Regions from separate parts of the Homo sapiens genome. Here region 2 is linked to region 1. Evidence: fine-mapped expression QTL. A gene starts in region 1. The other region holds a variant in brackets. All regions are shown on one strand. Distances are between the middles of the regions.

The links.
Region 2: its variant is fine-mapped to the expression of PDCD4-AS1 in whole blood (INTERVAL, PIP 0.99).

Annotation. Positions count from the first base shown.
Region 1 is chr10:110,869,781-110,872,691 of GRCh38, reverse strand. It overlaps PDCD4-AS1 (PDCD4 antisense RNA 1), which reads left to right and starts at 1,788. Exons shown (of 1, transcript NR_026932.1): 1 at 1,788-2,911. It overlaps PDCD4 (programmed cell death 4), which reads right to left and starts at 764. Exons shown (of 12, transcript NM_014456.5): 1 at 674-764. RefSeq lists silencers at 12-211, 422-571, 602-651 and an enhancer at 1,656-2,266.
Region 2 is chr10:110,956,282-110,959,192 of GRCh38, reverse strand. All of the region lies in intron 1 of SHOC2 (SHOC2 leucine rich repeat scaffold protein), which reads right to left. Among named protein-coding and RNA genes, the nearest start is that of MIR548E, 31 kb to the left of the region's middle. The variant T/GT (reference allele first, on the strand shown) is at 1,661.

The DNA.
Region 1 (2,911 bases):
CAGGGATGGGGCGGCGGGCACGTGTTCGCCTCCCAGCGCCCCCGGCGAGGATAGCGCGCGGCCCCTCCCCACAGCGGCCGGGCCTGTTCTCCCGCAGCGGGCTCAGGCTAGGACCCCCGAAGTCCCAGCCCGGGTCGGCCCCCGGAAGGGGCTGGGCCGGGGCCGAGGCCGGGGCTCCGGGTTCACGAAGGACAGGGGGCCGCATCTTCAGAGGATTCCCAGGGAGGGCAGGGGGCGGGGAGGGCGCGAATCTTCCTCACAGGATTTCAGTCCAGCCGGAAACACGCCTTCCAATCCCGGCCCCCGAATTCAACCTCCGCCAGAGGGGGAGGAGGGCTGAGGGGGACCTTCAAGGGCGAGCGCCTCGCGCGCCCCTCTCAGTGGGGAGATGGCTCCGGGAGGGGGCGGGCCCGCGCCGACACGCTCCAGGCTGGGCTCAGAAAGAGGGAACCAGGCCGGATGCCCGCAGTCCGGGGCGTTGGGGAGGGCGCGGCTGGACCTGCGGGGCTACAAGAAGGCAGCCGGACCCCCGCACCGCAGGCCCGGACCTGACAGGACCGCGACCCCCACGCCTCCGCCCCCGCCCCCTCCCATCTTGCGGCTGCCTCCGAGGAGGGATGGGGGAGAGGGCGCAGTCTTCCCGAGCGTGTGAGCCGCGCCTACTGGTACTGACCCCTCGGGCCCCCGCCGCTGCTCGCCCAGGTTCCTGGTCAGCCGGCCCCGACCCCGCTCTTCTGTCTCTGCCGCCGCCTCGGAGAGTCTCTGGCCCTTCTCGCTCTGTTTGTTTTTGTTTTCTTCTACCCAGTAACACGGGGGCGAGAGGGCGGCGCTTATTGGCCGAGGCCGGGTGGTCGGCTGGCCAATCGTGGCGGCGGAGCCGGAGCTGAGGAGGAAAAGGGAGAGGAGTGAAACGTGGAAAGTTGGGGAGGGGCGCGGGAGGGCGCATGCGCATGTGGCTCCTGGGACTGGCTGGAGCGGGAGTTGAGCGGGAAGTCGGGGTGGGGGTATGTTGGGAGGCGTGGCGGGATGGGAGCGTTGGGAAAAGGGCAGTGCTGGGGGATGGGGACGAGGATGAAGCTTCCTCGACCCAGCTCACCCATTCTCCTCACAGGGCGTTCTGCAAACTCGGCTGAAGCAAAGGTTTTGAGCTTCCTGATGGTCCCTGCCTCCATTTCTAGAAACTGCTTAGGCGAACACTCCAAGTGATCAGCCTGTCCGATTCCTCCTCCCTCTGGCCGCTGCTTTCTCTGTGGCTTCCAGTTTCTGGAGATCCCATGCTAAGAAGTTTCTCTCAGCGAATCCCCTCAAACCTTTGAGATGGAAATAATTCCCATTTCACAGATATAAAGCAGGCTCCAAAACTCTTTGAAGTTCCTTTGCTAATCATGACTAGCCAAGCCTCTGGCGTTCAAACGCACAAATTCCGGCCTCCAGTGCTGGGGTTCTCAGCCATGGCTACAATTTCTGTATTGAAACTTCCACCTCCCCTCGCTGTTCTCTGTGACTTTTCCTCTTGGCTGCATTGGTTTTGGCTGGTACTATCCTTACTCTTTCAAGGTCACGGTCCCCTGAGGGTGATAACCAGAACCTTAGGCTTCCTTTGTGTTCCCAGGCGGGGACTTAGCCACTGCCTCTGATCAGATTTTTCAGTTGTCTGATGGGCAGCACCGAATGATTGCTTGTGCTCTCCAGAACCCAACTGCCTCATCCCGCACAGGCCAGCGCTTTCCCTTGGCTGCCCAGTCACCCTGCCTGGGAATCATCTCTAATGCTACTATTTCTCTGCACACACACGCACACACACACACACAAACCTTCACTGGCTTCCCATTGCCTCTCTTGAGTGTCAGCGCCTCGGTCGGTCATTCAAGGCTCCGTGATGTGACTTCAAGACTTTCAGGCTGTGTCTCCACACATCTCCCCATATGCTTCCTCACCCCCTGGTAGTTCTTTATATATCACCTTGAAATGTCTCTCTTCTCATCTCCTATCTCCGCCTGATGCAATCCTTCTGTGCCTCATGGCCCTTCCTGGTAGTTTTTTATTTTGTTGTTGTTGTTGTTTTATTTAATTGAGGCAGGGGCTTGCCCTTTAGCCCAGGAGAATGCAGTGGCATGATCACAGCTCACTGCTGCCTCGACCTCCGTCAGCCTCCCTAGCTCAACGATCCTCTCACCTCAGCCTCCTGAGTAACTGGGACTACAGGCACAGCTCACTATGCCCAGCTAATTTTTGTATTTTCTGTACACACAGGGTTTCATCATGTTGTCCAGGCTGGTCTTGAACTCCTGGGCTCAAGCAATCAGCCCACCTCTGCCTCCCAAAGCGTTGAGATTACAAGCGTGAGCCACCATTCCTGGACCCTCGTAGTTTTTCTGGAGCCTCGTGATTTGATATGATCTTCCTGCCGCTGATTCCTCACAGTGTTGGCTTGCCACACCTCCAGGGGCACTGATCACATTCTACCTGGCATTATTTCATCTGAGTCCCTGTCCTAGCCCTTCTGCCCATTAGACTGTAACCTTGTTTAGGGAAAGACCTGTGTCTTACTCATCTGTGATTTTGTTGTTGTTGTTGTTTTGAGACAGGGTCTTGCCCTGTTGCCCAGGCTGGAGAGCAGTGGTGCAATCTTGGCTCACTGCAGCCTCAACCTGTTGGGGTCAAGCCATCCTCCCACCTCAGCTTTCCAAGTAGCTGAGACTACAGGCCTGTGCCACCACACCCAGCTAGTTTTTTGTATTTTTAGTAGAGATGGGGTTTTGCCATGTTGCCCAGGCTTCTCTTGAACTCCTGAGCTCAAGGGATCTGCCTGCCTCGGCCTCCCAAAGTGCTGGGATTACAGGCGTGAGCCACTGTGCCTGACCCACTCACCTGTCATTGTAGTACTTAAGATGCCTTGTTCATTTATTGT
Region 2 (2,911 bases), 87 kb before region 1:
ATTCATGAGGACATATGTACAAACTTTTGCTCTTCATTGCTTTCTGGTATTGTGCCTGAACACTTAAATACTGAAACATAAAATGTATAATAAATTCTTCATTTTTTTCTAATATCATTGTGCCTAAGCATTTACATAACATATAAAATGTACAATATTTTTCTTATATATCTCCTTTAAGAAATTACATAGATTTTTAAAAATAATGTAGGTTACTATCATTTTAAGAGTAAGGAAGTGTTACAGAATGTTGCATAAATGGGATATTAGGTCTGATGTACTTGAGAACAATTGGTTTAAACTACAAAGGTACTAGGAAAATATAGGAATAATTCTAGAAACAGAAAGCAGTTGGGGATGAACAGGAGTAGGGAGAAGGAAGGGATTCAGGGTAATGTCTGAGTAGCCGGCTTAAATCAGGTGGAGGCAGCATGATTATTCAAGACAGGGAACAAAAAAAAAAAGAAAATTAGTAAAATTTTGAACAAATTTATACTTAGATTCTAGTCTAGTCCACACTTGAAAATGTGATTTTAGAATAAAGGAGGGAGGTCTGGGCTAGAAATAAAGATACAGCTTTGGTGTCAACAGCAAAGGTTTCAGATGAGACTATCCACAAAACGCATGTAGAAGATGATACTGGTACTCTGGGGAAGATAAATATTTAGAAATGGATGGATGGGCCAAGTGCAGTGGCTCACGCCTGTAATCCTAGCATCTTGGGAGGCTGAGGCAGACGGATCAGGAGGTCAGGAGATTGAGACCATCCTGGCCAACATGGTGAAACCCCGTCTCTATTAAAAATACAAAAATTAGCTGGGCGTGGTGGTGCACACCTGTAGTCCCAGCTACTCAGGAGGCTGAGGCAGAAGAATCGCTTGAACTGGGAGACAGAGGTTGCAGTGAGCCAAGATCGCACCACTGCACTCCAGCCTGGCAACAGAGCAAGACTCCGTCTTAAAAAAAAAAAAAGAAAGAAAGAAATGGATGGAAGACAAAGGCCTCAAAGAGAAACAGAGGTACACATAAACTAGGAAAGGGTATTGTCAAAGCAGCAGCCAGTTCATCTATTTAAATTTTAGAAGGAAGGAGTAGTCAAAAATATGTAGCATACTGGCAGAAAACTTAGCCTTAGAGAAGACGGATCTTTTTTCCTTTCAATTAAAAAATGAGAATGGATTCAGCTACAGACAAGTTTGTTTGAAGGGAGGAGGAATAAGAGAGTTAAGTGGGATTATCATCTCCAGTTACATACAGAATCATATTTGTTTGGTGAAACAGAAGCAAATTAATCTGTTGAGAACATGAAAGGCAAAGTTTGCTAAGGGGTTGATGAAAGAAGTAAAAGGAATGTATGAGGACATAGACCAGAGATAAATAAAATTGCTGAGTCTGATAAATTTTGATATCATTAATTTGTCGTGGCATCAATCTCCAAAACTGTACTTGGCAATCTAAATTGTATTCCTAAATTAATTTAAAGTTGAGGGGATTCACAGGGCAAGTGTGGCAGAAAAATAAGGGACCAGACAGTACAGTTTGGGCTGGTAAGGAGAAAAAAGTGAACCTAATAAGCCATTAGTTTCTTAGATAATTAGAGGAAAAGGGAGTGATCAAGAAACTGGAAGAGTGAGTTGGAAATTGTGGGCTGGGGGGGGGG[T/GT]ATCTTCATGATTAAGAATCTGATGTTCTTCCTGCAGGAGAATTTACATTTATCCACAAACATATACATGCGGCATTATACACACCAGGTAAAAAACTATGTTAAGTCAAAGAGTCGGTATAACAGACGAGCATTAAAAAGCTAAAAAGATAGTAAATTATGGCAAAACAAAGCAATAAGCTTTCAATCACAACAGTCCTAAGACTTTGAGAAGTAAAGAAATGAGCTGATTTACTCAAGCACATATTGGAGTCACTGAGTTGCTGAAACTAGAATACAGAGCTACTGATATTCAGGGCACTATTCTAACCAATCTTGCTGACTACAATAACATATTTTATCTTGATGAACCATTTAAATGGTATGAAAGCATGGAACAATACTACAACCAAAGGTACCCATTTATGAATATTGCTATTTCCAAACTTAAATACAAAGATCAGCAAATTACAGGAAGAAAATATCTATTAAGTTAATGTTGCCTTAGGGCAAATGCCCAATAAAGAGCTTGTTTTCTTGATCTCTGAACAAAGCTCCAGGTTCACCAGAAAAGGTACCCTGATGTCTAATTCTGCAGGTCAGCTAGAACCTTTTCTTTCAATTAAAGAGGCTACAAATATAGCTAACTTTCTTACAAGAAGAAGCTACTTACGAGATATTTCACTGGCAATATATTAAAAGGAACATTAAACGGAATACTTTGTTATTTAAAAAAAAAAAGGATTTTTCCTAGGGCCCAATCATTTATTTTTTCTTTTATTTCTCATAAACATGAAAAACACAATGATTATATAAGGTAACAGAGGCAGACAATCTAAACCCAAGCAGATCAAGATAAATGTAAGATTTAAAACATTCATTTTATACAAGACTATCATTTTTTAACATGTAAGAAGAGTTTTCAAACTGGAAAAGTCTTAAACTTTTTATTCCACAATTTCAACATATTTTAGGACAAGGAGCACTGCTGTGAAAAACAAAGGTTTTTTAAAAAGCAGCAAAGTATCACAGGACATTAGGCAAAGCAGCAGAATTGCAAGCAGCTATATCCAAAGAAGCAGAGTGGTCTTAAGGTATGAAATGTAGTCAGGAGTTTGAGACCAGCTTGGCCAACATGGTGAAACCCAGTCTCTACTAATAATACCAAAAAAAATTACCCAGGTGTGCTGGCGCGCACCTGTAATCCCAGCTACTTGGGAGACTGAGCAGGAGAATCACTTGAACCCGGGAGGCGGAGGTTGCAGTGAGCCG